7 separate regions of the Homo sapiens genome follow, and regions 1, 3, 4, 5, 6 and 7 are each linked to region 2. Evidence: fine-mapped expression QTL. A gene starts in region 2. Each other region holds a variant in brackets. All regions are shown on one strand. Distances are from middle to middle.

Evidence for each region. PIP is the estimated chance that this variant, and not a neighbour inherited with it, causes the effect.
Region 1: its variant is fine-mapped to the expression of VWDE in whole blood (TOPMed, PIP above 0.99).
Region 3: its variant is fine-mapped to the expression of VWDE in whole blood (TOPMed, PIP above 0.99).
Region 4: its variant is fine-mapped to the expression of VWDE in whole blood (TOPMed, PIP above 0.99).
Region 5: its variant is fine-mapped to the expression of VWDE in kidney cortex (GTEx, PIP above 0.99).
Region 6: its variant is fine-mapped to the expression of VWDE in whole blood (TOPMed, PIP above 0.99).
Region 7: its variant is fine-mapped to the expression of VWDE in whole blood (TOPMed, PIP above 0.99).

The regions. Positions count from the first base shown.
Region 1 is chr7:12,343,640-12,347,639 of GRCh38, forward strand. It overlaps VWDE (von Willebrand factor D and EGF domains), which reads right to left. Exons shown (of 29, transcript NM_001135924.3): 20 at 735-830; 21 at 556-651. Among named protein-coding and RNA genes, the nearest start is that of VWDE, 58 kb to the right of the region's middle. The variant A/C (reference allele first, on the strand shown) is at 1,792.
Region 2 is chr7:12,402,221-12,406,878 of GRCh38, forward strand. It overlaps VWDE (von Willebrand factor D and EGF domains), which reads right to left and starts at 1,645. Exons shown (of 29, transcript NM_001135924.3): 1 at 1,439-1,645. The coding sequence starts at 1,496. LOC105375154 (a long non-coding RNA gene) reads left to right here and starts at 3,918. Exons shown (of 3, transcript XR_927035.4): 1 at 3,918-4,658. RefSeq lists enhancers at 933-1,500, 1,501-2,066 and silencers at 1,203-1,497, 1,391-1,440, 2,378-2,567.
Region 3 is chr7:12,440,300-12,445,101 of GRCh38, forward strand. LOC105375155 (a long non-coding RNA gene) reads right to left here and starts at 3,500. Exons shown (of 3, transcript XR_927036.2): 1 at 3,372-3,500. It also overlaps the pseudogene LOC100419641. The variant A/G (reference allele first, on the strand shown) is at 2,231.
Region 4 is chr7:12,351,582-12,355,581 of GRCh38, forward strand. VWDE (von Willebrand factor D and EGF domains) reads right to left here. Exons shown (of 29, transcript NM_001135924.3): 19 at 1-132. Among named protein-coding and RNA genes, the nearest start is that of VWDE, 50 kb to the right of the region's middle. The variant C/T (reference allele first, on the strand shown) is at 2,388.
Region 5 is chr7:12,329,691-12,334,358 of GRCh38, forward strand. VWDE (von Willebrand factor D and EGF domains) reads right to left here. Exons shown (of 29, transcript NM_001135924.3): 28 at 3,775-3,878; 29 at 1,195-1,507. The coding sequence ends at 1,493. Among named protein-coding and RNA genes, the nearest start is that of VWDE, 72 kb to the right of the region's middle. RefSeq lists an enhancer at 1-199. The variant A/AAAAT (reference allele first, on the strand shown) is at 2,508.
Region 6 is chr7:12,362,153-12,366,152 of GRCh38, forward strand. The region is part of intron 13 of VWDE (von Willebrand factor D and EGF domains); the gene reads right to left. Among named protein-coding and RNA genes, the nearest start is that of VWDE, 40 kb to the right of the region's middle. The variant C/T (reference allele first, on the strand shown) is at 2,436.
Region 7 is chr7:12,264,798-12,269,599 of GRCh38, forward strand. No RefSeq gene overlaps it. Among named protein-coding and RNA genes, the nearest start is that of TMEM106B, 56 kb to the left of the region's middle. The variant C/T (reference allele first, on the strand shown) is at 2,315.

The sequences.
Region 1 (4,000 bases), 59 kb before region 2:
AACTACCTTTTCACATATTATTTTAAAATAAACAACTTATTTCTTTAAAGTATCATCCACTTTAGGAATGCTATTTCATAAATTTTCCGCTTAAGATTTAAACCAAAGCAATGCAATTATATGGCTACAGATGTATTTTTACAAATTCACTTTTTAGGTTTCTTCTTACTACTTTACATTTTCTAGTTATTTGGCATTTAACACTTTATTTGAACCATATTTGGTAGATCATTCAATAGCTGTCTTTGCTTGAAGCTAAAACATTTGTAGATATATAGTACCTTATAACTAAACCTCAAATCATTTCAGAGGGTAATTTTACCAATAACAAATAAGCTATTGCCCCTTGAATCTCTGATTTCAGAAATTTAATTCTTTAGAATCTTTGAATAAATTATATTTAATAAGTATTTTAAAATGTAGAGTCCTATACCAGCTTTGATAAGAATATTTTAATATATACACAGTAAAACTGAATTGTCTTGTAAAATGGTTTTTAAAGAAAATTATGCTATATTTTAGGCCTTATATTTGATTTTTAATTTGAATTATCACCTTCATCACAGGTTGCTCCACCATGTCCTGGAAGACACTGACAAATGTTAGGCTTAATACATTTTCCATGGTTTTTGCAATCAGGGTCACAAAGAGCTGTATAAAATAAAGCCCAAGTTTTAGACATATCAATTACCAAATACAATTTATCATGCAAACTAATGAATGATGTTACCTACCAGTTTGGCAGTTAGAACCAATGTAACCAGGTTTACATTTGCAGATGTTTGGGGCAACACACTCCCTACTTTTTCCACATGGATATTTACAAATGGCTAAAAAAAAATCAAAGAAAAAAAGGTTGATTGCTAAAACAGAACATACATATTGCTCAGAGACTTAGTTATGATAGAAGCAAAAGTCTCTGAAGTTTGAATAGTTAACTAATAGTCCCTCTAGATAATACTGAGAACGTAAGAATACTCCAACAACTCTCTTGCTTAAGTTTAGTCTCAAACAAGCCAAAACACAAACAAAGCAAAACAGTAACACAACAGTAACACAAGACAGCTTCTATGTTGCCAAAGCCAAAAAGTTGATTTTCATCAGAGAAAACAATGTTAATAATTGTGAGAAGATAGAAACAATGCCTTTAAAATTAAAGTGATATATAACTTGCTGTAATCTCGAAAGAGTTGGAAAGATTACAGAGAAACCTAGTTCATGCAAATAAGCAAATATGCCAGAATTAGTATTTGAAGTGCCAAATGCCCACCGTGAGCTGAAAAGAATACAGACCACAATGTTAATCAGATCTATATTGACATCTTTTATCTGTTTAGCTGATTAATGCTGGGAAATTCAGTGGGCACTCCAAAACTCTGTTTTCTCATCTGTATAATGGGAAAAATAATACCCAATTTGTGGGGTTCATGTGGATAATATGACACAGTTGATACAAAATGTTTCCACAGACCCTGGAACACAGAAAGTACTCAAATATATTTGTAATATATATTATATAGTTGTAATACTCTATAATATTAACATGATTTTAATAAATAACTCAGCAGACCCACTTTTGTTCTTTCAAAATGTGATGAGAATACAGTATAAATGATCAATAAATAAAATAAACGGAAATAAGTGAACTAAGCAGAATAAATAGAAATTAGTATATGGAAAAGCATATCTTTTTAATAACTTAAACTTGAATTAGATAATTTTCTTTGTATCTTCTGAAGAGTTTCATACTACCTCTGCAATTGATACCATCTCCATAATACCCAAAGGGGC[A/C]GCGTCCACATTGGAAGTGACCATCTGAGCTTGGCACACAGGAAACACCAAGAAAACAAGGCTAGCCAGCACAAGGTGATATTTTGGTTGATCCAAACTTTTCTGGCAAAATAGCAATTGCTTTTGTAATAGATGACACAAACTCATCTTCATACTGTGTGTAACCTTGGGAAGACCTGCTAATTTGAGAATATACCCTCCTGTCTCTGTTTGGATGGTGTTCTGGATATCATCATTTGCTTTGCCATGGGTGTTGTTTGGGTTCCTGCTTAAAGAGCTACTGTTCTTCACAGAAACTTCCAACTCACCCAGACTGAGATTTGTACTGAGACTACGATCCACATGTTCAATATCTGATATCTGATGGGAAATAGGCTTTACTGAATTATCCATTTGGGCTGTAATTAATTTCAGTGATGAGCGGGAGATGTTGTTAGTTGTGCTCAGTAACTTTTTGATAGTAGCGGGAGTAGGAGTAAATCTTGTACTAATTAGTGAATATTCTGTTGATGGTGGCTGAAAATTTATAGCTACACAACCAAAAAATAAAAAACGTTAGTCAATAGCATTTATAAATAGTCTTCTCTACCTGAAATATTTTACATTAAGTAATTCATTCCTTCATTTAGTATCTACACATGTCTAACATTGTAGTAGGAGCTGTGTACTAACAAGAAATCATGACACTGTTTCTGCCTTCAAGGAGCTTATAATCTTTTGGGGTACACAAGATAACCCAGAATGTTAAATAGTATAAAAGTCAAAGTACAATAATTTATTTCATTAAGATTTTGAAATGGCTAACAAACACCTGTTGATCACCTCATACACATGAGCCTCAAAACAAAGGAAAGCACAGCCCCTATGCCTGAGCAATTTAGAATATTGTCAAGGATAGAGACATGTGAGCCATTCACTATGAAACAATCATTGAGAACTACTACAAGAGTGATAAATATAAAATGAAACCTACAGAAACACAGAAGAGTAAGTAATTTTCCCTATAAAGAAGACAGGAACTAAATGTATAAGCAAAAATTGGGAAATTATATAAATGCTATTTTATATGAGAGGCAAAGAACCACAGGTCTAATAATTTTACAAATGTGATAAAATCAGATTTTATGTCCCCATCTTTCTTGACTGCTCAGCTAGAAATTAAAACATTTTTACACATCTTTTTGGCGGGGGCGGGGGGGATCATTATTTATTTCACCTGCCAAAATACTTCATTTCCTTATTGCACTTTTTTACTTCTTTGGTATGGAAAAATCTAACGGGTTTTAGAGTATGAACACATTTTAAGCAGTGATTAGATACGTTTTTCTTGTTATGCTTTCTATTGCAAATTTAGGATTTGATTTTGCACTGTCTTCATGCAAAGCTCTTCTCAAAGGTCTTAAAATATAAAAAACACTTAATGCTTCTCAAAGCATTAAGATTTTATGTAAATCAAACCAAAACCAGAAAAAGACAGAAGAAAATGAACCAAAAACAACAAAAATAATCCTTAACATAGTTGGCAACAAGTGCAATGAAAGATTTTTGAAAAATGTGAGGACTTCGTGAAACATAAAAAGCATATGGGTTCAGACTAATAGAAACAAGAGTGCACCAAATATAGCCCCAAACATAAATAAGGGCAGTGAGGTAAGCACAGTTGTGTCAAAAAATACAGCAAAAGTGCCCTGGACTAGCAGTCCCCAGAAGAACTGCTTTAGATGATCTGGGCCAAGTCAGTGTCCCATTCCCTCAGCCTCTGTACACAGAAGGGACTCCTTCCAGAACCAAATTGTTTTAAGTGAACCTTCTCCTTAGGAGAGTTTTTATTGTCAGAATTGGAGAAAGAAGCAGAGAAGAACTGAAACTCCAGATTACAAAAATTACCATTAAAGAAAGTAAGAAAAGAGCATATGTTAGCAAATGTATGTTAGTAAAGCACATTTTTTCTTTTGAAATGTAATGATTCAATGTTCCTATGAAGGTATATATCAGAGATATCATAAAAATTACAAAATACAAGAATCATGAGAAGATATTGGCCTTACAGATACTAAAATGTAGTATAAAGCCACACTAATCAAAAACAATGTATTATTGGCATAAAAAAGACTATTAGAAAATAATAACATAACAGAAAGCTCAGAAATATATCTCAACATATAAGGGACTTTAAATAAAATATATGATATTTAATCGTGAAAATGGC
Region 2 (4,658 bases):
ATTGACTGTGGTCATCGCTGCATATACCTGTAAATATACTCTGAATATACACATATCTGTGAAAATGAAAAACCATAGAGTCGCACACTTTGAGTGATTTGTATGGTATATGAACATCTTAATAAAGCTATTTGAAAAAAAGAAGTCTCAATAAATGCATTTTCCATTTACCTCGTCTTCTAGTTTTACTCCATTAAACATAAAGAACTTGACAATGTTACCAATGTTATGAACTTAAAACCTGGTAATGGGTAATATTTGTCTTCAGCAGAGAGATTACAAAGCTATTATATAGAGGCAAAAAAGGGTTATGCGGTCTATAGTAAACATGAAATCATCTTCCTTTATAAACATTGGTCATTTTTTTCCTGGAAATATTTATCTAACTGTAATGAACAGATATATGTTATTACATGTATTTTTTAAAGTTATTCATAAAGATTTAGTAACGCTGTAAGCAAACCAAAGAAGGACCAGAAAAAATATCATTGCAGAAAATAATAAATTTGATTTTAGTATTTTATTTTTAAGTTTTGTATAGGATAGTGTTTGTATTCCCCTTATACAAAGCAAACTTACATCAGTAAAATGAGTTAAGATCAAAAAATGATAAGACAAAACTATACCCTGGACTGCTATAAATGTTGTACATAATGTTTTTTCAAGCTGCAGATGGTTGAACACAGATCAGACTTTTTCTGAAAAACGTAAGGAAACTTGCAATATAAGAACAAGTCACCTTTCATTAATATTCCTATCTGTATGAACACAAAAAACAAGCAAAAAGGGCTAATGAAAGTAGTTTTGGTTTAACTTCACTGTATTTTAAACTAAATGTTCTTTGTCATGGATTAAAGAAGTAGGAGGGGAGTATTCGCTCCACAGAGATCTCTTTTACAGTGCCAAAACTGATTCTAACATATATATACAAAAACCATAATACAGTATAATACGGATATACAAAACTTAACTTGGTGATTTATTGTAGGGATAAAATGTTCACCAATGAATTATTTCTGAGGGTCCGGTTGGAGGTGGAATTCGTGCAGTATGGAATTCAACTCTGTTCTGAGAATTCAGGTCCACTTGCGGCTAGCATACCTTGCAGATCCGGCGAAAGTTTCTTACAGTAAATTACAATGACCTCAAAGAGCAGGATAACAGCAGGAAACAACCAAAAACAGAACCAAGGGTCGTAGAGTAAGAGGAGGCAACAACCGCATGTGCGCAAAAGAAAAGTGTAGAGTTTTCAAGCTGGAAATTGACCTTTTCAAAGACAGCAGAGGGACAGAGAGGAGGCGGGTGAGGAACAAACATCGCTTGCTGCCTTAAAACGCACAGGGACGCTCCCCAAGTCGTCCAAAAAGTCTAGCCTAGTCCCTCTACCGCCCACGCGGCGCCACTGCGCGCCCACCCCCGCGCGCCCTACCTCGCTTACCTTCCCCCCAGGCCAGGAACATCAGCGCGATCACCAGCACGCAGGCTCCGCCAGGCATCGCTGCTTCCGCAGGTGGGGCGAAAGGCGTCGCAGAGCCCGGGCCGCGGGTGCCAGGAGGATGGGGCCACAGCAGCCCCTCGGGCCTCCTTTCTTGGATTTTCTCAGTCTGTTGCTGCTTGGAACAGGGAAGCTCCGCGTCCTCGTTCTGGGGTGCACCCAGTCCTTTCGTGGGATAGAGCCTTCGCGTAATCCGTCTGCGACTCCTCCCTTCCCATTTTGGCTGCTGGCTGACCTGAAAGCCACGCCCAACCTGTCCCCATAGCCCAGCGTGTACCGGCAGTGGCTCCGCCGCCTTGGATGTCACCGTGCAGTCGCACAGCCAGGAGTCAAGCTACAGGGATGTAGCTCTCCGCCCGCTGCGTCTTGCTGTTCTAACAGAGGCTGTATGAAAACTTGGTAATCCTAGAAACTGCTCAGATGGACCTCGCATAAAAGAAGCCTCACAAGGTTCCGTTGGAAGGGGAAGTTTCCCATGATTGTATCTGCAGACGGATTCCTAACTGCGTAATGGGCGCTACTGGTTTGCACCCCAAGGCGAAGGCGCTGAAAATGCTCCTGTCACCTTAGATCTCAGTGATGAACGACAGGAGGAGGAGTAGACACTAACGTTGCAACAGTAGATGCCTTTTCTTCTGCCTCTGTGACAGGTTTTCAGAAGTGGAAAGGACCGCATTTAGACACTAGCCAAACCATGAGGTTTGTCACCTGTATTTGCCAGTGATTCCCAGAGCTCTTACAGTTGTCCCAGGACGCTTTAGCACATGGCCACACGACTCCCAAGGTTGACCTGGGAGTTATTAGAAGATCAGAGGGCTCTAATGTCTTCCCCCAACCTCGTTTTTGTTTTGTTTTGTTTTGTTCGAGACAAGGTCTCACTCTGTCACCCAGGCTGGAGTGCAGTGGCACAGTCACAGCTCGCTGGAGCCTTGAACTCCTGGCGTCAAGCGATCTTCCCCCTCAGTCTCCCAAAATGCTGGGATTACAGGCGTGAGCCACCGTGCCAGGTCTAAGGTCTTCAGAAGTGTGGTTGCCTCTGCAGAGGAACAGGGTCCTTTTTTCAACTGATTCTACATCTTTTTATGTCTGAAAATGAAACCTCACTGTCCTAGTTTTTCCCTGGCTGTCTCATTCCTTGAGTCTCCCATCCATCACCTTGCACTTGGTTCTCACAGAGCCTTTACCTGAAGAGGATAGTTTGGGGGTCCAAGTGGGCACCAAGGTTCCACCCACAAATTTGGAGGTTCAAGGTTGGCCTAGGCATGGTGGTGGAAACAGGAGGTGTCCAAATGCATAAACAAGTATTTTTTTAATTTCATATAATTCTTTATTTTTAATTTGAAAGGTAAATTACCATTTAAAATTTTAAAGCTTATCATCTCCATAGTAAAAATATTAACCCATATTGGAAATAATTTCTTTTTGGTACACAATACTTGTGTGTAGCCATCTTTCAAATGCAGCAAGGGCACCCAATTTTCTGGATTAAAAATAAAATATTACTTTTTGGTGGACGGTAGACAGGTGATTTTTATCTTAAGGCTTAAGTATGGAAGGGCAATATAATGTAGGCACAATGAAAACCCAGAGATTTCTTAGTGTACAGTTAAGTCTTTTGTTTCCGCTTAAAAAATTCTAATAAAACAGACAAGAAATTAAATGTCAGTTTTCTCAATCTATTTGTGAAATCACCAGGAACAAAGTAATTTGATGTGAATCAAATCATAGCAGGACTTTTGTGAATTTATTTTCTAGCAGTATCTATACAAATGTAGTAAACTTTTATACTTTCTTGGAGGACAACATTACTTATCTGACTTCCATCAAAATACAATTTCAGGTATCGTGGGCCTTATTTTTTTCTTCAGTTTTTGATTGTTTATGAGTTTATGAGTTTACAATAAACTTGTGCCAAAACCCAACTTCCCTCCATGTGACTAAAGATGGAAAAAACTAAAAGCAACTTAAGAATTTTTTTTCAAGTCTCAGTAACCTGGCTTGGATCTGCAAGAATGTATCAATTAAATGCTGGTTATATCACGCCTGTAATCCCAGTGCTTTGGGAGGTCGAGGCAGGCGGATCACCTGAGGTCAGGAGTTCAAGACCAGCCTGGCCAACATGGTGAAACCCCATCTCTACTAAAAATACAAAACATTAGATGGGCGTGGTGGCGTTCGCCTGTAGTCCCATCTACTCGGGAGGCTGAGGCAGGAGAATCGTTTGAGCCCAGGAGGCAGAGGTTGCAGTGAGCCAAGATAGCTCCTCTGTACTCCAGCCTGGGCGACAGAGCAAGATTCCATCTCAAAAAAAAAAAAAAAAAAAAAAAAAATTAGTTATAGAACTGTATGGAAAACAAAAAGTAATGAAAATGTTTTAATCTATGTCTCGTGAAGTTAATCAAAAATTGGTATAAGATTCTTTTTTATATTTTTGAACATTAAAAACAATGGATGCATGGTACCCCGCAATATAGAGACTGACAGCACTTGTAAAATGCAGTAAATATCACTGAGACAAATAATAAGAATGTCAGAGGGAAGAAGAAATGAAGCCAAGTGCTAATAAGTACAATATAGCTTAAATTAAAAGATTAACAGGAGAAAATTTTCAAATGATAATTTTCTAGGAAAAGGAGATAACTCAGTTTTTGTCAGGTTAATTTACAAAGTGATGGGCTTGAGTGAAAAAAAATACCAAATTCAAGGGGCAGAAAAACCCAGTGATTAAGTCCACAAATCCTAGGTTAAAAACACCTGGGCTGTAATTCTAGATCTGCTACCTATTTATCAGAAGTGTAACCTTGAACAGCACACTCAACTCCTCTTAACCTCATTTTTCTGTACAATAGAAATGACAATAATAGTACCCCATAGACTTAAAGAATCAAAAGTGTATGTGCATGCCTGTGTGTGGCTGGGAGCGTGGAAGAGCATCTGGAGAAAGAGCACTCAGAATAGCATTTGGTCCAAAGTAGCTATTATGGTCGAATGTAACAGTTTACTGTTATTAGAACTAGGGTAATATTCTACATAATTATACTTTCTCTTATGTCTTATTATATAAAGGTGCATCATTTCTTGGCACTACTCTATTACAGTGTCTGCACAGTTTGGAGTAACCTTCCTGGAAAATACATATTTATGTAACATATGAATTCCTCAT
Region 3 (4,802 bases), 38 kb after region 2:
TCCTTGAAAATGAGCCATCATCACTCTATTAAATGACATTTTAGAGGCCTTTCCCGCTTGTTCTTTGTCAAGGTCTACTGTATCTTCCAGTGAAAATGTGGACCTGGTTCACATCTTTATTAAGTGCTGACAAACACAAAATTTCAAAAGTTCAGAGGACTAGTCTCCATTGCAGGTGACTTGAGGGCTTCAAAGGCATGTATATTCGGTCTAATCTTTAAACCGACATGATTGTATTCTTCAACTTGGGCAGAAAATCTTTTAGCTAGCTCGCATTCCTTCAATGTACATCAGCAATATACTATAAAAACAACCAAAGTTGCATATACCAAGATTTTCAAGGGAAGATTAATCCAGACAACATCATCAGAACACTGCAGATGCTCCAGGACTAGCCAGAAGGACATTTTTCTGGTGATGGCAGGTTCTCCATGGCTCTGTGTGGGCACTGCAGCTCTGCCTCTGACCAACAACTGGTGAACCATAACTGCCTGTCTGGAATATTGTTAGCGTTCTACCTCAAACCAAGCCAAGTACCTGGCATCAGCACCAACCATCAGTGGAGTTGAAATTAAAAAGAAGCTTGTGTTATAAACTAGTGCTCATGAATTTTGGTCCAGTTACTGCCAAAATAGAAAGGGTTATTATTTGTATAGTACATTGTGTGGATGGAAAGAGCTGAATACCGCTAGAACAGATTAAACAGATTAGCCCGTGAGCTGTGACCAGAGGCTACACCTGATCCTACAGAACCCAAGAGATCCAGTCAGCACCATGTCACAACCCATGCTCCATACATGAGCTTTTCAAGATATAATTGTAGGGCAGACTGCAGTAGTGGATTCATGTGCCCATGTCCCTGGGTAAGGCTCTTTCTTCTCTGGATTTTGAAAGTTCCTTCTACAAGATGTAGATGCCTCATCCATCCTGTTTACTAAGATCATAGCAATTTCCCTCCTCTGGGAGGAATCACCTTCCTTCCTTTGTGTTTTGCCAGACACTGAGGAATGAAAGCCTTCAGCAAAAGTATTACCTTGCTTGGGTTTCAATTGTAAGAATTTGGGAGAAATCAGCCAGACCTGAAATGTCTTCACATTTCATGGATTTCCAGTGTTGCCAACTTGTCTCGGTACAATCCAGCAGTTCAGAGTGCGGGAGACTCTATTACGTGTGACCTAGTGACTCAAGATCCTTCCATCATTTGAATCTATCATCTTCAGCAATGGCTGTGTGAATCTCAGAGTGACCTGGGGATAGTTTCCGAACCACCTAGCCATCTTCAGATTTGGGGCTGCATTTGGGGAGGGAGCAATTTTATTTTCTTTCTTTCAGTCACAGTCCCCAGTCCCTTTTGGCCTACACTTGAGACTTTGCTATAAACAACTCCATTCACTTTTTTGCCACGAACAACTCCATTCTGCTTTTTCCTTGGAAAGAAAAGGGCTCTTCTTTTGTTTGTAATACACTTTATATTTTAAATCCATAACTATTTTAAAAAATTAAAAAACAAAAACATTGTTCAGGCCAAAGAAACAGCACTATAAGACAACTGCCAATCAGCAACTTCTGCTGAAGAGGTTCTAGATGAGGGAATGGAGGATCAGAAATCTTCATGACTTCAGTAAGTCTGGCATAGTTTCTGTGACCTCAGTGTCCAAATGATAGTTCAATAATACAGCGATTTCTGATTTGAGATGTCTGATCTGATTGTGCAGAAATTAAGAGCTTAGACTTGATGGCTGGGAGGACCTTTCCAGAGTCTTAGTTGTAGGTCCCAATGTGTCTTTGCTCCCTTATTTCTAACATAAGGGTATAAATATATATGTCTTAGGGTTATGGTGAGGGTGAAATGGGATAGCGAATGAAAACCACTATCCCCATTCCTGCATGTAGTAATCACTTGATAAATTGAGCTATTACTAAATTTTAGATAGGAATGAAAATTTAAATGTGAGCTAGTGGGAAAAGAAAGTACAGGCCTAATCAGCTTCATTGGATAAGCATGACTAGGCACTGCATGCTTTTCTCCATGGGCCTAAAGAAGAAACCTCTCCAGTTTTATAGCATGAATCAGAAATATGTGCTTCGGCATTATTTTGCAATAAATACAAATAAACAAACAAGCCCATGGATTTACATAGATCTTTCAAAAGAGGGGTGGAATAAGACTGTAGCTCTTGTTAACAACATTGTTAACACTGAACATCCAAGTGCACAAGTCATACAGGAG[A/G]GTGTCTTTGTCAGTTGACAAGTGAAACATTACACATCTCGGTTCATCCAGAAAGTTTGATGTTTGCCTCATGTAGTAGAAACTGCAGAGGTGGGCTCCCCATAGATGAAGCCTGACAAGGATTAGTTGGAAGGGACAGTGCCCCTATCATCCCTGCCCACACATCCTTAACTGTCTTATCTCCAGTGCTTGATTGTCCATGAAAATGACCGTGATTCTCAGAAGGTGTTCCTGCTACCTTCGGTCTCAGTGAGAAAGGTGGGAGGGAGAAGACTTTAATGTTGCAACAGCAGCATCCTTCTTTCTCTGCAGCATTCACAGGATTTTAGAAATGAAAGGAGCAACTTGACTCTATCCAACTTGTGTAATCAGTCACCACTTATATGATGATGTTTCCAGAGCTCTCAGCTCAAACCTCTCTCCTAACTTCATACTTGTAGATTGAAATTCTTATTGAAGAGCTGCCCCCTGGTCTCTCAGACCACAATATGTCCAACCCTGGGCATATGTCCAACCCTGCACCATTCACACACCTGCTTGAAAAACTTCCCTTCATAATTTTCTATTGCAGGAATAATTCCCTCATTTCTCTTAAACTGGAAATCTTCAAGTCATCCTTGCCTCTTTTCATTGCAGCTCTCACTGTCTGGCAGTCCCCAAAACCTCTGTGCTCCCTTAACATCATTCAATTCCATTCATTTTCTTCCCTTCTGATACTGCATGATTAGGCCACCATAGCCTCTCATCTAGTTTACAAACAGTCTAAATTATTTTCTTGCTTTTGCCCACATTCCTGTTGAAAAGCTGCTAATTCATCCCCATTGCCCTTTGCATAAGCCCCATGCCCAAAAACTACAAGACTCTTCAGAGTGGTCCCATCTCCATTTTTGTCATTTTTTCCCACAAGAATATACCACTTTTCCCACACTCAACAACTTTCAGTTATCTAATCTGGTCAAGCTCTTCCTCATATTTTTATATAGTGCTTCCCAGGCCAGAAGGCTTTCTGTTCCTTACCTTTTACCTGACTATCACCTACTCAGGCTTAACTCTCGGCTGACATATTAGTTTTTCCAGTGTTTTCTTGACCCACCAACAAGGACTCCCATAGCACCATATACCTAACATTTTCAGCTCTTACCTCTAACGACTGCATGAAAATTCCCCATTTCCCCGTGTCTTTACTCCACTGAATAATGAGAGGTCCTTGAAGATAAAGATTATGTTTAGTCAAGATGTTATTCCCAGGGAATGGCTCAGTAACTGAGTCATTGATGACCCTAAAAAAAAAATTGGTCTGATAAAGTTGAATCTGCTAAAACTCTGAATTGTGTTGATAAGGAATACAAAGGTGTGAATGGATACAGTTATTCAGTAGGTTGTAGTGGAGTTAGAAATAAGGCCCATGATTGGTCCTAGTAGATAGAGTTGCTTCTGCAACCCCCTAAGCTGAGAGACCAAGCTTAAAAACTCAGCCACTTTGTTCTCCAATTTTTTCTCTCAAATGTTTAAAACAAACAAGAGTTGGTAGTGATGAATACATTTATGAAATAGATTTTGGTCATGGTTTCACAAATGTATACATACCTCCAAATTAATCAAGTCATATACATTTTTTTAAAATCCAGCTTTTTGCCTGCTAATCATAAGTCATACATCAACAAAATGGCTTTGAAAAAGGAGAAAAGCTAAGTTGATATACAGTTATTGCCAAATGGCTCTATCAATTAAAAAATAATAATTAAACAAGTTCCCAAGAATTTGTCTATTGTTTTTCAACTCACACTACAATCTATTGCATATTAAACTTGCTTAGCAGGACACAACTCAGTGGTATTATGTCTATACTACAGAATATCAGATGCTAAAAAGGTACTATAGACCATCCACCTTAATCCATTCACTTGACAGTTTAGAGAATTGTGATTCATTCATACTTCTTTCTGTAACTACAATGTATTGCACTGTGAGGTCAAATGTATCAGATGTCCTCATACTGCTGTTTCTTTGTTTATCCTATTTCTTCTTCCTAAGATACCTTTCCCAGGATTTCTTACTGACAAGACCATTTAATGAAACAACAGAAATAAATCCAGTGTTGAAGAAGTTATAAATTCCATGCCAAAAGAAGTGGTCTCCACAGAGTCACATTCATTGCTCTCTATGCCCCCTTATTGTTGGACCCATTAATCTTCATTCATGCTTGCACGGTGATTGCCAAGCTGTATTTTAATAAACTTTAACATGACTCTCTCCAACATAAAAAATGATTTATTTCTTGCAAATATATAAAAGTAATACTGACAGCTTGTGTTCAAAAAGAAATACTGTTGAACAGACAGTCCTAGAGCTACAAAGCAAATATGGAACTTTTATAAGTATTAATCTCAGTTGCACTCTGCTAAGTAAAACTAGATAGACTTAAATGGCTACGTGCTGTTTGATTCTATTTCTGTGTCACTGTTGCGATGGCAATACTATCGGGTCAGAGAATAGATGATTAGTTGCCAGGAGCTGGGAGTAGGAGATATGTTGAGTCCAAATGGGCAAAGAGGGACATTTTGGGGTAATA
Region 4 (4,000 bases), 51 kb before region 2:
TTCCACTTGTTGGCTTAACATGCCTCTTTCTCCCTTGGGCATTTTTATCATCCTCTTCTTTATTTACACTTTTATCAGATCTTGTGAGAACCACAGTTTGTGTAGTAAATTGATTTACAAACTGTGTTTCAACTGTAAATGAGAACAAGGAAAACAGATTAGACTTAAACTATTAGACAACCAAAGCACCACAAATAAGAATATACAATACAAACGCCACTTGGATTAAACTCTGCAAATTAGACTGAATAACTCACTTAAATGTCATCTCTTCTGCACACTTTTCTGGTATGGACTGAATTGTGTTCCCCTAAAATTCATATGTTAAATCCCTACTCCTACATGTGAACATGTTTGGAGACAGGGTCTTTAAGGGGGTAAATAAGATAAAATGAGATCATAAGAGTGGCACCCTAATCCAATAGGACTGGTGTGCTCACGAAAACAGGAAGAGATACCACACATGCAGGGAAGACCTGGTGAGAACATAGCCAGTCTGCAAACCAGAGATATCTCACCACAAACCAACCCTACTCGCACCTTAATCTTGAACTTTCAGCATTCAGAACTGTGAGAAAATAAATTTCTGTTGTTTATGCCCCTCAATCTGTTATAGCAGCCCAAGCTAACGTACCTTCCTTCAGTTGAATTCACCCACCCGATCAATTTTGCCCATTTGGGTTCTCCCACAGAACTTTGCCCTTCATGCTATTGATTCTTATGTGCCCCACTAGTTAGCAATAACCTCAAGAATAACTGTGCTTTATTCATGTTGCTATCCATTGACTCTGGTACCTATCATAAAACTAAGAAAACACCACCAACAACCAAAAGTCCTTTTGTATTAATAAGCCCCTTCCTACAATACACAAATGACTCTGACAATGTTAAGAAACATATTTAGTCACTCATGTGTAAGGGGATTTGGTTCAACTTGTTTTTCTCTTAAATGCCACTGAATGAAGTTTTTATTGAAGAAATGGGTCTGTTTGGGAAAGAAAACGGCTAGATCACTTATTACAATGGAAGGTGTGAATATTAGGGATGGGATATTCAGGAGTAAATGTGAGAAGCAGAAGTAGAGAATTCCCCTTACCATCCTATACTGTGTTGCTCATATCTGTGGGGCTGGGCAGGCTCAGCCCAATTTGAAGCACAAGATGCTGCTGCTTCCTTAGTACATAATTGTCATCAAAAAGGGTCCCATTCACTTAATTAAACCAAAGGTATGGATCTTCAACACTGTCTTCTATAACTTAGTTTTTTCTCTTTTAATCTTTTAAAATGTTGATGCCCACCAATTTTTTTTGTCCATTTTCCTCTAAATCTAAGGGTTTTCCTGGACAATTCTATGACATAGCTGATTATTCTAAGATTTATATTTTCAACTTAATCCTCCTTTCTGAGCTTACATGGATATTCCATAGTAACCCTAGTTTCTGTGCATCCAAACTGAATTCATTATAATTCCCCTCCAAAAAAACTTGTTCTTCCATTACGTTGCTTGTGTGTCTTAGTCAGCTTGAGCTGCCATAACAGAATACCACAGACTGCGGGGCTTAAACAACAGAAATTATCTTGCCATTCTGGAGGCTCAATGATCCAAGACCAAAGTGATCAAACTAGCTGACTGAGTTTTTGGTGAGGGCTCTCTTCCTGGCTTGAAGACGGCCACTTTCTTGCTCTGTCTATACATCACAAGCTCTCTGGTGTCTCTTCATATAAGGATACTAATTCTGTGGGATCAGGGCTCCACCCTTATAACCTCATTTAACCTTAATTACTTCCTTTCTCCAAATATAGCCACACTGGGAGTTAGGGCTTCAACATATAAATTTTGGGGGGACGCAGTTCTATCCACAGCAATGCAAATGCAAATTCTACACACCCATTCACTAAAATCAAACACTTAAAACTTAATGAATCTCTTTCTCTCATCATGCTAAAACCAATCACTGGCCAAGTACAATCAACTTGCTTCTTTATTATCCCTTTCATCATTACCTCATCTTCATCTTAGGTTAATATATCTTCATCTTTTTTCCTATATATTTGAAGTATTTTCTTAACTCTTCTTCCCACCTTCAGATTTACACAGTTCCCTACCCACAAGTGGTCCATCCTACACACTGCTCCTTAAACTATCTCACATGTAAACTGTATTGTCTTTCTCTCCCACTTCAAAATTTTAAGAGAGTCTCCATGGTTTTTATGTGGTCTTGCTACTGCTTACCTCTCTAGCTCCAACTCTTGTAGCAGCTCCCCTTTCTTCCTATATTCCAGGCACACTGAACTATTCACAGTGGCTGGCTGCCCAAGGAGTGCTGTGATGTTGCCTGCTTCTGTCCCTTTGCTCCTGCTGTTGGTTTTGCCTGGAATGCCTTTCT[C/T]TCTCTTGATCTATCAGATTCAGTTCTCATGTGTCTAGTATAGTCTAGTCGCTTCCTTTTTTAAAACTTTTTCATTATTTCTCCAGGTAGATAAGATTCCCTGTGTAGTATTCCTACTAGCCCTTTTGTGATTTCTATCAAAAGACACAGAACACTTTATTATACTCTGTAATTACTAGTCATATTCCCTGCTGTTACACTCTACCTATTAAGTCAGAAAACATGTCTTATATATTTTTGCATCCTTTGTATCTAGTTCAATGCATGACACTTAATGCATTTACACTAAATAAATACATGAGTCAAAAACAGAAACTATGCTATTAAAAAATAATTAACTGCAGCAAAAAAAATCTCATAGCAGAAAATAGAAACTTTTACCATGGCATATTTTTCCATCCCCATAAAATCCTTCTGGACATGAACCACAATGATAGGAACCAAAGGTATTCAGGCATGCTACTCCCTCAAAGCAAGGCTTGGAGTCACACTCATCAACATCTTCCTGGCAATTTTTGCCTGTATAAAATATAGATCAAGAGCTCAGATTATTTAATTTGAAAAACATCGTATGTCCAATTGTCTTATTATATAACTTCTACTTTTTATGTCTGTCCTTCTAACCCCAAAAGAGCTGCTATGCATTATGAGGACAGAAGTATGCTGTTTTTAAAACTTACTGTATAATCAAATATAAAGTCACTAATTACATTCAATTTAATATTAAACCAGACCTTTCAAGTACATACGATTTTGTTTTTGTAAATAAGATGAGTTAAGAACTCCATTAATAGTTAAGGCAAAAAGCTTCATATTACAGCAGTAATTTGAACTTTGTTTAAAAAGTCAGTAATTTTTAAAAGTTATTTAGGATGGTTGTCTGTTTAGCTTAAGGACAAATTGTTTAGTCTAGTTATAAAAATTCATGAAAGTTGTTTGTGTTAGGAAAGTCAGTCCGTCCTTAATCAAAGTTTTTGAGTTGATGTGGTGCTCTTTGAAATGCTTAACAACTCATCTGAACGAGTAAATTCAGTCATACGTGGATGGTAGCCTTTATTATACTAAAATTTATGAGGCAATCAACATTTGAATTCTTTCAAATAGAGTCTACAGTGAAGTAGAAAAGAGATCTACATTCATAGTTCCCAATGATAAAATTTTTGTTTTAAAATGCTGAAGAGGTCAGACCTGTAATCCCAGTACTTCGGGAGGCTGAGATGGGCGGATCACGAGGTCAGGAGATTGAGACCATGCTGGCCAACATGGTGAAACCCCATCTCTACTAAAAATACAAAAAAATTAGCCGGGCTGGTGGCGGGCGCCTGTAGTCCCAGCCACTCGGGAGGCTGAGGCAAGAGAATGGCGTGAACCCAGGAGGCGGAGCTTGCAGTGAGCTGAGACGGCGCCACTGCACTCCAGCCTGGGCGACAGAGTGAAACTCCGTCTCAAAAAAAAAAAAAAGTGCTGAAGAAAATTAGAAGACACATAAATATTCTGCTCAGTTCTACTGTATTGTTAAAATGGGTATCTTCAAGAAAAATATCAGCTCATTAACTATATATTTACTTATTTAATATTTACATCTATTAAATGTACAGAAAATATTCATATGA
Region 5 (4,668 bases), 73 kb before region 2:
TCGAGAAGAGTTCTTTCCATTGTTTGGGAGGCTTTAAATTTTATTTTTGGTTTATATTATGTTCTCCTAAGTAATCTATTAAAACTACCTTTTAGTAAATATAAAATGATAAATTAAAAACTCTTTAATTCTGACATTGGATGTTAATACTTAAAGAGTCCTTAGCATATGTAGCAATACTTTTATTCTGATTGCGTCTTACTTTATCTTACAGGTTAGATATGGCTTAGGAATGCTCAATCTTTCTACTTAAAAGAAAAAAAATGAGCCTTTGTAAATGTATATGATTTAAGATGGTCATGTTCAAATTAAAATAACTTGTTTTCTGAAAGTCAAATGAAATGTCTGAGGTAAAATATGAGATAGCAGGAAAAAGGAAACTTTATAACCCCAGGTAACTTGCAATTATTTGGGTCTCTGAGGCAAATCTTTTAATTATATGTGTATTCCTTGTTGTTGTTACCCACTTCCCCAACTATTCATGTATTGTAATTTAACTTTGTTTTTATTAAGCATCCAGATACACTTTTCTTGTGATATCTGTAGAAGGATTTGGTTTTGTGATCATCTCTCTCGATTCATATACCAAAATGGATCATGGTACAGAAAAAATGGAAAGATGGAAGAGCAATCAGATGCAGACCTTTTAGCATGTCTGGTGTTTGTTTTCTCACTTTTGGGCCCAGGACACCACTGCCACTTTTTGTAAGGCTGGGAATTACATTTTTCAGAATCCACTTACCTGTGTGGTTCTGGGTCAGAGTTTGCCAATGAGAAAAATTTGCTGGAGAGTCAGAAGAAGGAAATGAAGAGGAAGCCATCAGTCTTTTCAGAGGTGTTTGCAGCTTGATGCTTGGAAAGATGAAATTCACAGTGGCTTTCTAGCAAAATTTTGAGAATAATCCACTTTGCCTGAGACAGTTGGTGGTAGTTTTTAAAGATTCTCAAGTATTATAGCAGCTCCGGGAAAGCCTCTGAAAAGAACCTGCTTGGAGCTTTGGGCTAACGTCTTCATTATTACCTACTCTGATCAGCGGTGGCTTTCCTAACCTGTAGCTCCCAACCCTCATTCCCCATTCTTCAAATACTTACTTCTGTGAGCCCCTCGTTCTGCATTAAGCATCATTTATTAGGATGATATCAAGTGGCTTCCATTAGGCTGACTGACTCCTAATGATGCAGACATAGTCACAGTTAGGGCTGAGAAAATATTCAGTTTATTAAATATTGTGAATGGGTGGAATATCAGATACATCATCTCAATATGTAAATATCCTATCCCATCTCAACATCAAATTTAGATTACCTGGATTTCTTCTTTGCTTTTCTCTATGATTACAACAGAGATCATTATGTATTTTATTAGTTTCTTCAGTCTTTAAGATATTTTTTGAATGATGTTCAAATAAACTCCAAGTTATCTCCAACTTTTTCTGAACAAAATATTTCCATTCTTAAGATACAGGCTTGTAATTCATATACTTGATGCTACTCAATGGCGTCTTATCTGTAGTAGGAAGAAGGAAATTGTGTTTCAATGAATAGTATAAAATCATTTAACCCTTACTCATTATTTGTTGCCTCCTTCCCTCTGACATGATACGTAAAGCTCTTTTGGTTCTGTTTGCCACTAGACTCAATACTGTTTTCATAAAATTGAAATCAAATCAAGATCATACTTAAGGTCCAAGCTGTCATAACCAAATGGAGCTTGCATACTAGGTGATTCCATCGTGGCAAAATGTTACACTTTAGAAACATCCATGCCCAATAAAACTAATTAATGTTTTGATATCCCTCAGGAAAAAACCACTGATACTCATAACACATTGCAGTGTTTCTCTGAAGTGTCTTTCCCCATCCTTTTCTTTCTCCACCTCTTTCTATTCCTCTATTGGATGTAATTAGTTACAAACTCTTACATAGTGCTTGTTATGTCCCAGGCACCACTCTAGGTACTTCACATATATTAACATATTTAATCCTTACAATAAGCCTAACATTAGGTGCTACTATTAATGCCATATTGCAGATGAGAAAACTGAGACTGAGGGGGTTAAACTTGCCTGAAATCACAGAGCAAATAAGTGGCAGGGTCAGAGTGAGTGCACTCAGCCACAAGCAGGAGGTTATGATGCTTCTCAAAGCCTTTTATCAACCCACCCTCTTTAGCACCTTTTTCTTCCTTTACTTATTTTCCCTTTCTCTGTGTTTCTTGTCTCTAGCCAGTAATTCTTTTTCATTGAAATTCTAGCAATGCAATCAGTAAGCTCCATTTCTTTTTTTTACCCACTATCTCAGGTTGCCTGAGGAAGAGCCAGGAGGTAGTTAGCCAGTCTGAACCCTCCTTTGGGGAAGGTAGGGAAGAGGGGAGCAAGGGATGGAGTTGGAGAAGGTTCTATGGATACCCATGGATGGTGATTGCTTTTTTCCCCACTAAAGAGAAATTTATGTTTTAACCTATGTGTGGGAGACAAAGAAATATCGAAAGCAAGTAAAGAAAAAAA[A/AAAAT]GACACCAGTGATCAACAGAATAAAGCCAGAATGAGATTGAAGTTAGAAGCTTGGGAGAGCAGGTTACAGTAGAACAGGACATATTGTCCTCATGCTTAGCCTTTTATGCCCTTTTCCTTCCCCATGGCCTTCTGGCATTTTTTCCCCTTAGTGTGATTTTAAATGCATTCTTAGAAGCAGCATTAATGGGGATAAAGATGATTTGCTATTGATCATATGAGGAAGGATTCAGATGGCAAATAAATACATAAAATAGAATATAGAGCAGCCACCTAGTTTAGTACTGTCAAAGTGGAGTTAAAAAGCTTTAGAGGTCATAGGGTTTTCTGTGCCATAAAAATCTCACATCAAATCAAATCAAATAATATATACTTAGGCTGCCTTCAAACCCAAGGAAGCTCAAGCTTTTATTTTTATTTTTCTCAAACAATATTTAATCAAATAAGTACTCAATAACTTTTGCTTTCCAGTTTTCAAACCATAGCCCTATTATGATCTGGTTATTTTCACAATGGGGGCCAATCCTACAGGATGACACCAGTGCTCGGAGAAAACTATACATATATCCATTTTGTCTCCAAGCCAAATTGATCCATATCAAGCTTCAAGAAGAAAATTTCTAATCAGTTGTCAAATTCTGGTACTCCAGCATACTTTTATATTCATGACCCTGGGGCATTTTGAAGTGCTAAATAGCATATAATGACTTTTTAAATTACAACTCCTACATATTAACTTTAAGACATTTTTGAGAGGTTTGCTGCATTTGTCTGTATGTTTGTATGAGAGAGAGAGAGATTATTAGAACTACCCTTGTGTGTATAGGAATTAGGACTGAAATAACATCTCGGCTGTTGATATTTGGAAATTTAAGATTAGAGACAAAACACAATGCAGTTTAATCCTATATGAAGAAATAAGATCACAGAAACTTTTTAAATATATGTTTTATAGCACTGGCCCTACAAATAAGTGTCTTGAATCTATATTGTGGAACATTTGCTGTCTCAACTACAGTGTCATGAAATACTGCGTTACATTGGACAGTTGTATCTATACATTGAAATTCCTTAAATACACATCAAAATTTTATATAATAACTCTACCAAAACACAAAAATGATACAATTTTTAATTTTAGAGGCAAATAAATGCTTTTTTTATTTTGGAAATAATAAAAAAACATTAATTAGTAACAATTACTAAGTAGAAGAGATATGCAAATGTCAATGTCTAATATTTATTTTCTCTTTAAACTCTGAAATACCTGTATTTTCTTCTCACATTTGACTCCAGAGTATTCAGTGCGGCAGGAACACACATTGGGAAATATGCATCTGCCTCCATAAAGACATTTTGGGTTGCAAATTGCTGCAATACACAAATTTTTACAATGACCATCCTTTGACATGAAATGCTTGTGGCATATTCTATCCTAGTGGTCTGGGGCTATCTGGTGATTGGACACCAATGCAGTCATAAGAATCTATTAATGAACCATCAATGAATGGATCTAATCTATGTACTCTTGTCTTTCAGAGCACACGCACACATCAAAAACAAAGCACCCAAAATTCAAACAACACTTTTGGAATTCTATAAAGATATTATTAAAAGAAACAAAAATTTCATTGGCTACATTTTGAAGTATTTGAAATATATCTCTTTTTTTTTCTAGAGGAGCTGAAGTCATTAACAGAAGATAGCATCTATAATTTACTTTTTAACATTAAGCAAAAATTTAAAAGAGACAACCCAGTACTGGCTAGTGTATGGAAAATTTGACAATTTTTATACTATCATTGGAAGTTTAATGTGAAATAACTACTGAAAATTTCTGAAAGATACTCATGCTGTCTATATCATACATTTCTTACTTGAAATCTTTCCCAAGGCAATTAAAAATACCTACATCTATCTCAATATCTCAATATCTCAATCTATTTATCATCTACCTGTAGAAAGAAAATACTTATAATACTTAATAATAACTTGTAAATAACTAAAATGTTAAACATAAGAGGGGAAGTAAAGGGAATTTTTGTAGTATTTATATTATGGAACTTAATATATTGCTTTAAATTTTGTTTTTAAACAACATAAATTCTTTCAAACAATATTGAGTGAAAATGAGCGTACCACAAAATTATATATAATAGTT
Region 6 (4,000 bases), 40 kb before region 2:
GAGAAAGCCAGTATATAGTGAAACAGGAAAATGAAGCCCACAAACAAAAGCCAAATTGAGACAAACATACACACACACACACACACACACACATAAAAATGCACACATACTGAGTCTTCATGGTGTTCAAGTCCCAAGTTCAAGATTTTTCTTGAGAATTCAGCTACTTTCTTATTCTTGATTCTCTAAGAAATATACTATCCTCATAATAAATATTTTTGCTCAAGTTAGTTTATTAGTAATTTGAAACTAAATAAACTCTACTTAGTTCACTCTACTTAATAACTCAGTGACACATTATGCTTAAGCTACACTTTTAGTATTGTTTTTCAGTATGAAAATGCACTGGTCCCAAAAGAAGAGAAGCCAGCATAATGTTCCAGGTACGGATAACTACGTAGGAAACCAAAAGCTATATTTTGCTGTCAAAATTTAGATTTAGATTTTTCTTTGAAACTTATTACTGTCAAATGTTTTCAACCACTCAGAATTTGTCATAGAGCATGCTGATGCTTCAATATTGTGGGTCAGCAGGAAAGGGAAAGGAAAACATGATCACCCTAATCTGCAGCTAACAGAAATTACGTTTTTGAAGATTTGATGATTGAAAGAGTGAGCTGCAAATCTCCATATTTAAGGGAGTATGGAGAGTCTAGCCTAGCAGATCTACCAGTGGTTTCCCTCTTGTAGAAGAAGAATGATGATTTCTCAGAGTAGTCATGATATCTACACTTAGGTGAATGTACAGTCTCGGTTTCTTGTGCAGAAAGAAAGCTCCAGCTAATGACTGGCAATATAGAGATTATTCCCAACTTTCTATTTCAAGGGGCCTACCCAAAATGAGGAATATACAGTGTTCTATTTCCTTTTCATTCATCAATATTTTGTGAGTATATATTATGTGCTGAAAATATCTCAGTGAAAAAAGATCACAAAGAAAATGACAGACAATATATAATTGTATTATTGCATTAAAAGAGACTCAAATAAGATATAATACAAAAGGAGTTATTAAGTCTAACTAACTAGCACAGTCAAAGAAGCCTTCAAAAAAGCAAACACTTCTCTTCCTGAAAATAAAAAGGGAGACTGCTATTTGGACACTGGGAGCAGAAGTGGAAAGAGTGCAATTCACATGAATGGAGGGAATAGTGTATGAAAAAGACAGGGATGCATGGAACAGCATAAACAGGAAGTTCAAGCCTACAAATATAGACAAGAGCTAAATCATAATGTGCCATCCATTTCTTGGTTAACATCCTGTATTTAATCCTATAAATCAGCAACCTTAAAATTGGATTTTGTAGAGTCTTGACTGCTTTGGGGGAGGAAGTGAAAGAAATGCTTAAGTGGTTGAATCTCTAGCTAAAGACTTGCTTAAAACTACTAATACAAAAGTAGAAAAAAGCATGTAAAATATGTTACACTTTATATTAAAAAAAGAGTTTCTATCCATTTTTTGTACCAAAGAAATATAGTAAGGATTAACCAGAAAATGATGACAGTAGAAACATACTTTAATGAAAAGAAGGAGTGATGGAAAGCAGATGACAGGGATGACAAGAAAGTAACAATTCTATGTGCATACCTTTGTATAGCTTCAACTCTTAGAACTATAATATTTCATATACCCTCCAAATAATTAAATAATTATAATCAACCAGAGTGTGGAAGAAACTCAAAATGGAAGACAAATATTTTTAAAACCTAGTTGTATTATAAATAAAACAGATAACCACTCTAAACAGAGTGGAAAATAGTTAATCTAACTCACTTTGGAAAGCAGTATCTGCCTTTATATTGTGACCTTGTTTCATGAATTTGTTTTTTTACAGAGGAAAGGCTTAGAATTTCTGAAACTGACTTACATATACATTTAGATTGAGAAACCAGGTAAATATATTGTGGATCATGAGAGCCAGTTTTCACTTGTAAAGAAAAGAGTTACAAATAAGGAAAGGAGAAGGCTAGAATGAACCTTATGGCACTGCACTGAAATCAGAAGTATCAGTATCAACTCACAGAGATGACAGATAGATAAACCGATAGATAGGTAGTTACGTGTGTGTATAAGTGTACATACATAGATTTTCTAACTGTATCCATTAAAAGGGCCAAGAAGGATTAACTACCCTGTAACAAGAAGCACACCTTGCACCCAAGTCTTGGATTTTAAATGACCCTCTTTGATAAATGGAACTACAGTCTTTAGAGAAACAGTTGATTCTAGAGTTGGGGTAGGAAAAATATGAGTCTGGAATATCATATGATGCCAGAATGTGATAAATTGTTCAAAAAATTATGGGAGCAAGTTAAAAGGACGTGTGAACGAATTTGTAATAGTTCCCAATGGTCAAAGCTAGAATAATTTAAACAGCCAAATAAAGAATGATAGCATTGAGTTATAATTCATGAAATAAGTTTCCATTAGTCTA[C/T]ACTGGCATGAGTAAATAAATGAATAAATAAATTGGAAACAAGGAACAGCTCTTCCTTTCAGTAGAATTCCAGATAATATGTGTAGAAGAAATGATGGAAATAGAAAATCACCACTGGTAAATACCATAGTCATAATTGCTACAAGCAAAAATTATAGTTGGATGCTAAAATTAGGAAGAAAATGTTTGAGGAGCTATCATATATTTGCATAATCTAAAAGTGTCTCCCTACAACGTATTTATTAGTTAAAAAGGGAAAAACAGGGAGCTTAAAGTGAAGATACATGGCAAAAACCCCTTAAGTAAGTGATCAAAATTTACATTGCCCGTGATTAGATACATTGCATCATGAAAGGATGCACTAAAAATTGTACAACATGGCATGACCTCAATCTAACCATAAAAAAGGAACATTCCACAAAATAACTGGCCAGTGCTCTTCGAAAGAACCAAGTGTGCAAAAGATGAAGAAAGATGGAGCACCGTCACAATATTCAAAAGAGCCAAGTGTGCAAAAGATAAAGAAAGATGGAGCACTGTCACAATACGAAAGAGACTGAAGAAACATGACAAAATGCAGTATAAAATCTTAAATTAGATCCTGAATCAGGAAAAGGACCATTATTAGTTGGACAACTGGTAAATTTACAGAACAAGGTCTGTAAATTTGTTAATAGTATTGTATCGAGGTGAATTTTCTGATTTGAATAATTATTTTATGAATATGGTTTATAAATAAGATATTAACTTTATGAGAAACTGGGTGAAGAATTACTGGAAACTGCATTATTTTTACAATTTTTCTGTGAGTATCAAGTTATTCCAAAATAAAAGTTTTTAAAAATTACTTCGTAAAATGGGAAGTCATTAAGGATTTTGCATGACCTGATTTCCAAAATGCTAGATTTTAAAGAGGAACCCAATCTTCGAAGGGAACTGAAATTTGAACTAAGAAGGTGAGCAGGAATCGATTCACGTTGACTGAACATGTAATAGGGGAGCTAGGAGAAGACATTAGCTTAGTGGCAGGGCGAGCACATTCCACACAAAGTGAATGCAAGGCTTTGAGCAGGGCCCATGTTCGTAGGGTTGGGGATCCTAAAATAGTGGCACATTAAACAGACTTGACTGGAGGTATGAATTAAAGGCTAGAAGAGCCTTTAAAACCCAGCACTGGGCAAGACTGGCGCTAGGAGAGACAGACTTAACTTCAGCACAATGTAAAATAAAGACGGATATGCACTCTAATTTTAGTTTGGGCAAGTGAACATCTTTCTTTCTATAGTTTTTGATTTGGTTTGGCTCTGTGTCTCCGCCCAAATCTCATCTCGAATTGTAATCCCCAGGGATCGAGGGAGGGACATAGTGGGAGTTGACTGGATCATGAGGGCAGTTTCTCCCATGCTGCTCTCATGATAGTAAGGAAATTCTCATGAGATCTCGATGGTTTAAAAGTGGCAGCGTCCCTCTTAACTCCCTCTCACCTGCCACCTTGTGAAGAAGGTGCCTCCGTCTGCCTTCTGCCATGATTTTATGTTTCCTGGGGTCTTCCCAGCCATGTGGAA
Region 7 (4,802 bases), 140 kb before region 2:
GGTTATTATACAGATATGTTTTATCGTTTTCTTGGAGAATGTTGACTATTTTAGCTTTCAAATATAAGTCTTTGCCCCATCTTCAAAGTAGTTTTATGTGGTATAAAGGCCCATGTCCTTAAAAAAAATGCGTAATACAAATGACCCAACACCATTACTGAGAAGATGGTTATGTCTCCCTTGACTTGCAATTGAGTGCCCATGTTATTATATTGGTCTATTTTTGGACTAAATAAATCAGGTGCAGATGTTATTATATTGGTCTATTTTTGGACTACCTACACGTTTTTGTTTTTTTTTTTTTTTTGAGACGGAGTCTCACTCTGTCACCCAGGCTGGAGTACAGTGGCACCATCTTGGCTCACTGCAACCTCCACCTCCCGAGTTCAAGCAATTCTCCTGCCTCAGCCTCCCAAGTAGCTGAGATTACAGGTGCCCACCACCATTCCTGGCTAATTTTTGTATTTTTAGTAGAGACGGGGTTTCACCATGTTGGCCAGGCTAGTCTCGAACTCCTAACTCAGCCTCCCTAAGTGCTGGGATTACAGGCATGAGCCACCGCACCGGGCTTGAACTATGTATCCTTTTCACTGGTTTATTTGACTCTCCTTGCACCAATATTACAGTCTTAATTACTGTCTCTTTATAATAGGTCTTTGTATCTGTTAGTGTTGAGTTTTACAGCTGTGTTCTTCTTCAACATTACTGGACTCTTCTTATTCCCCTGCATACATTTTACTCTTCACACACATTTTAGAATAATCTTGATTTCCACTAAAAAAAATGCAGAATTTTTAAATGATATTGAATCTATAGACCAATTTAGGGAAGATTCACCTGTTAAAATATTTTCTTCCTATCCAGGATATCATCTGTATCTCTGCTTATTAGGTCTTTAACCTCTGTCAGTAATGTTTTCTATGTAATTCTAAACTCTGATCTTTGATTTTTTTTTTTTTTTTTTTTAACCTAGTGAAACTGCACTCTCTGGTAGGCTTCATTGCCTTGAGACTGCACTATCTGAATGGGCTCTATTTTCCTCAGTTGTTATACAGAAAATACCTGAGCAAGAAAGTTAGTGAATGTGGATACTTACCACATCTTCCCTTATCTCAAGAATTATAACTCTGTATGGTGGCCTCTTAGTGCCTGCAAATTATTGCTTTTTAAATTTAAAATATTTTTCCAGCTTGTATTGTATCCCAACATGAGCGAGTTTAAATCTGTTTCCAGCTACTTCAAAACAACCAGAACCAACCCTAAAATTTTAAAAGTAATTTTTACAAGAAAAATTGTATTTTAATATGTATTTTAACCAGTAGAATATTTTATCTACTTTTGCAATTTTTTGTTTTATTCTATAACTTTGTTCCCAAAAGACTGTAAGATATAATGGAATTGAAAATAAGAACAGTTTTTTTTTTTTTAATTCCTTCTTTCTTTTTTTTAATTCTTTTTTTTTTTTTTTTTTGAAAATGGGGTCTCTCTGTTTTGGCCAGGCCGGAGTGTGGTGGTACCATCTTGGCTCACTGCAACCTCCACCTCTTAGGCTCAAGCGATCCTCCCACCTCAGCCTCCTGAGTAGCTGGCACTATAGGCAAATGCCACCATACCTGGCTAATTTTTGCATGTTTTGGTAGAGATGGGGTTTCACCATGTTGCCCAGGTTGGTCTTGAACTCCTGAGCTCACATAATTTATCCATTTCAGCCTCTCAAAGTGCTGGGATTACAGGCATGAGCCACCATGCCCACCTAGAATCCAGTTTTTTAATGACAGTGCAGAATATCTGTTTTCTCTGATGTATAAGGTATTTATAGTAAGCGGCATTTTAAAAACTAGGTTTCCTTATGAAAGATTAATTCTACATGCTGAATACTTGATCCCAAACCAATGAAGTTCTTAATAAGATTGTTCGAGCTAGTCAGGGACCTAGCAGGATAAAAGAAAAAATGATACATTTAAATTAGGTAATTAGAGGAGTGTTTAACACAAGGGCTATTTACAAGTAGGTAGACATGGTGTAGAAAAACTACAAGAGTTAGTGCTATACTTGGACAAATAAATTACAGCACTAATACCACCCTTAGTAAAGAAGTGGCACAAAAATAGAGAGGGCTATTTTAAGAGGAATTCCTGACAAGAACTGAGATATTTAGTCAGGAGATTCATTCTTCCACGAAAAGGATGCCAGAAACGAAAAAACACATTCAGACCTCATTTTTCTCCCTTCGTTTATTCTCCTGCTGGAGCTTACCTTTTGGTCCAAATGAACAGGATGCCAAAGGAAAGGGAGCTTGTTGATGGAATTCATA[C/T]AAGTTCAGTCTTCCAGAACACAGTGTAGGATGGAAATAAATAATGTTTCTGGTTGGGCAAACAGAAACTGTCTAGCACATCAGCGATAGGGTTTGTTTCTCCCCTAATAACCATTTCAAGTTGGACTTATTTTCTCAGAAAATAAATTCATAACACACATGCATAAATGCATGCATGTGTACATCTATCTATCTGTTACACCTCAGTTAAGTAAATTCCTAAAATCAAGTTTAATTTGAGACTATATTAACTACCTATGGAAGTAAACAGTTTTGTAAATTTGAAAATGGAAATTGCTGTTTACCTTATCTTGCACTTTCTAGCAGGTTCAAAGGCAAAGTTGTGAAGTAAGTCCTTTTCCTCCTCACTTTTGAACTCTTTCCACATTTTCTGTTTTATTAGACTATGAGAAGTTTAAGGCCTTAATGAAATGTAACTCCTCTCTATGGTACTCTACCCAACCTCTTAATATCTCAGGGAAAGACTTTCTATCCTACAATGATATCAATTAAACTAGAGTGACTTTCACAATACAAGTAACTGATACAGGATATATTGTATTTAAGAAGATGATTTCATAGGACAATAAATCCTCAAAGCCATAGTGATAATAATTTTATTGCAAAATGAATCACATAGTATCTTTTTGTTTACTCGAAGGGGAAGGTCCTAGTTTATGGTCCTTTTATACCTCTCTAACACTTTCTTATTCCCCTCTTCCCCCTTTAAATAGAGAGAGAGCATTCTGTAAACTCAGAATTATCATGATTGTAGTCCTGATAAACTGACATCTATTAATTAATAAAGGAGAGGCTGGGTGTGGTGGCTCACACCTGTAATCCCAGCACTTTGGGAGGCTGAGGTGGGCGGATCACCTGAGGTCGGCAGTTCAAGACCAGCCTGACCAACCTGGAGAAACCCTGTCTCTACTTAAAAAATACAAAATTAGCCAGGCATGGTGGTGCATGCCTGTAATCCCAGCTACTCAGGGCGGCTGAAGCAGAATTGCTTGAACTCAGGAGGCAGAGATTGCGTTGAGCCGAGATGGCACCATTGCACTCCAGCCTGGGCAACAAGAGCAAAACTCCATCTCAATCAATCAATAAATCAATCAATCAGTAAAGGAGAGAGTAAGATCTCATCTCAAAAAAAAAAAGTAGTTTTGAAATCCTTGCATTAATTTATTTACATTTACTCTCTATTAAGAGCAAATACTACCTGTTTAACACATATTGAAGTGATTTATTATATAACTTTATGTAATTTTTGTACATAAATTTCTAAAAGTAGAAAATATCAAGTCCATAATAGCATAAGCAGGACATATATAGGACAAACCTTATCCAGGTGGTAATTCTTAAGGTTTAAGGAAAATGGGCAATGTCTTTGTTTTTGTTCTCTGTTGTATTTTCTATTCTTTTAACAATGTGTGACACGGAGTAGATCATCAATAAACATATGTTGTGTGATTGAATTTTTAATTGGAATTTAAGACAGACTAGTAAAAAGAAATGTCTTTGGAAAGACACCTTCAAGCTATATCATGTAGGTCAATTCTAGTTTTGCCTACCCAAGAGGCTGAATCTACTGTTATGGAATGTGTTACTTGTCTTTCAAATTTCATCTTTGCTATGGTTTGAACGTTCCTGTTCCCTTTTGGGAAGTAATTAAGTCATGTGGGGTCAGCTCTGATGAATGGATTAGTACCCTTAGAAACGGGCTTGAGGAAACTAGCTAGGCCCTTTTTATCCCTTTGCTTTTTCCACCATGTGTGTGATGGCAGCGGTGGGCTGTATGGAGCTGCCATCATGCTGGCTTCAGCAGGGAGGTATGGGCAGTGGTGGCAGGAGTTGCTGCAGGAGCAGCGGTGGCAGCAGTGGGACCCCTATGTCCCACTTCCCCAAGGCAGCCAACTGTACCACCCCCATCCTTGCACAGCCAGGCAGGACCCGCTCACAGGCCCAGGGCCTCTGCCACAGCCTCAATCTTACTCCCCACTGCGTCCTGGGAGCCTGCGAGCACCTGGGCAAAGGTGCAACAGGGACTCGCAGGGCTGGCCTCAGGAACATAGGGTTCATTTGTGAGGGGTTGGCTGGGGCCACTGCACCACCTGCACCTCACCTGCCACCACTGCAAGGAAAATGCAGACAGGAGGCATGGATGGGGCTGCATGCTCCATGGAGCCAGTGGGAGCCGGGGACAAGCAGGAGCCCTGCCCCTTCCAAGCTGGCAGGGCAGAAGTTCCCCAGGTACAATTGCAACTGTCTAAGCCGGGGCTGCAACCTGGGCACCCCTGTGCTTTTGGAAGCCAGAAGCAGACAGGAGGCCTGCCCTCCCAGGCACAGTTGTGGCAGCCCAAGCCATAGCTGCACACCTAGGCACCTCTGCACTCTTGGTGGCCTGGGAAGACTCCCCATCCCACCACAGGCTCAGAAGTGCCTGCTCCCACTGTCCAGCTTCTCCCTGCTGTCAGCGCCCACTCTGATC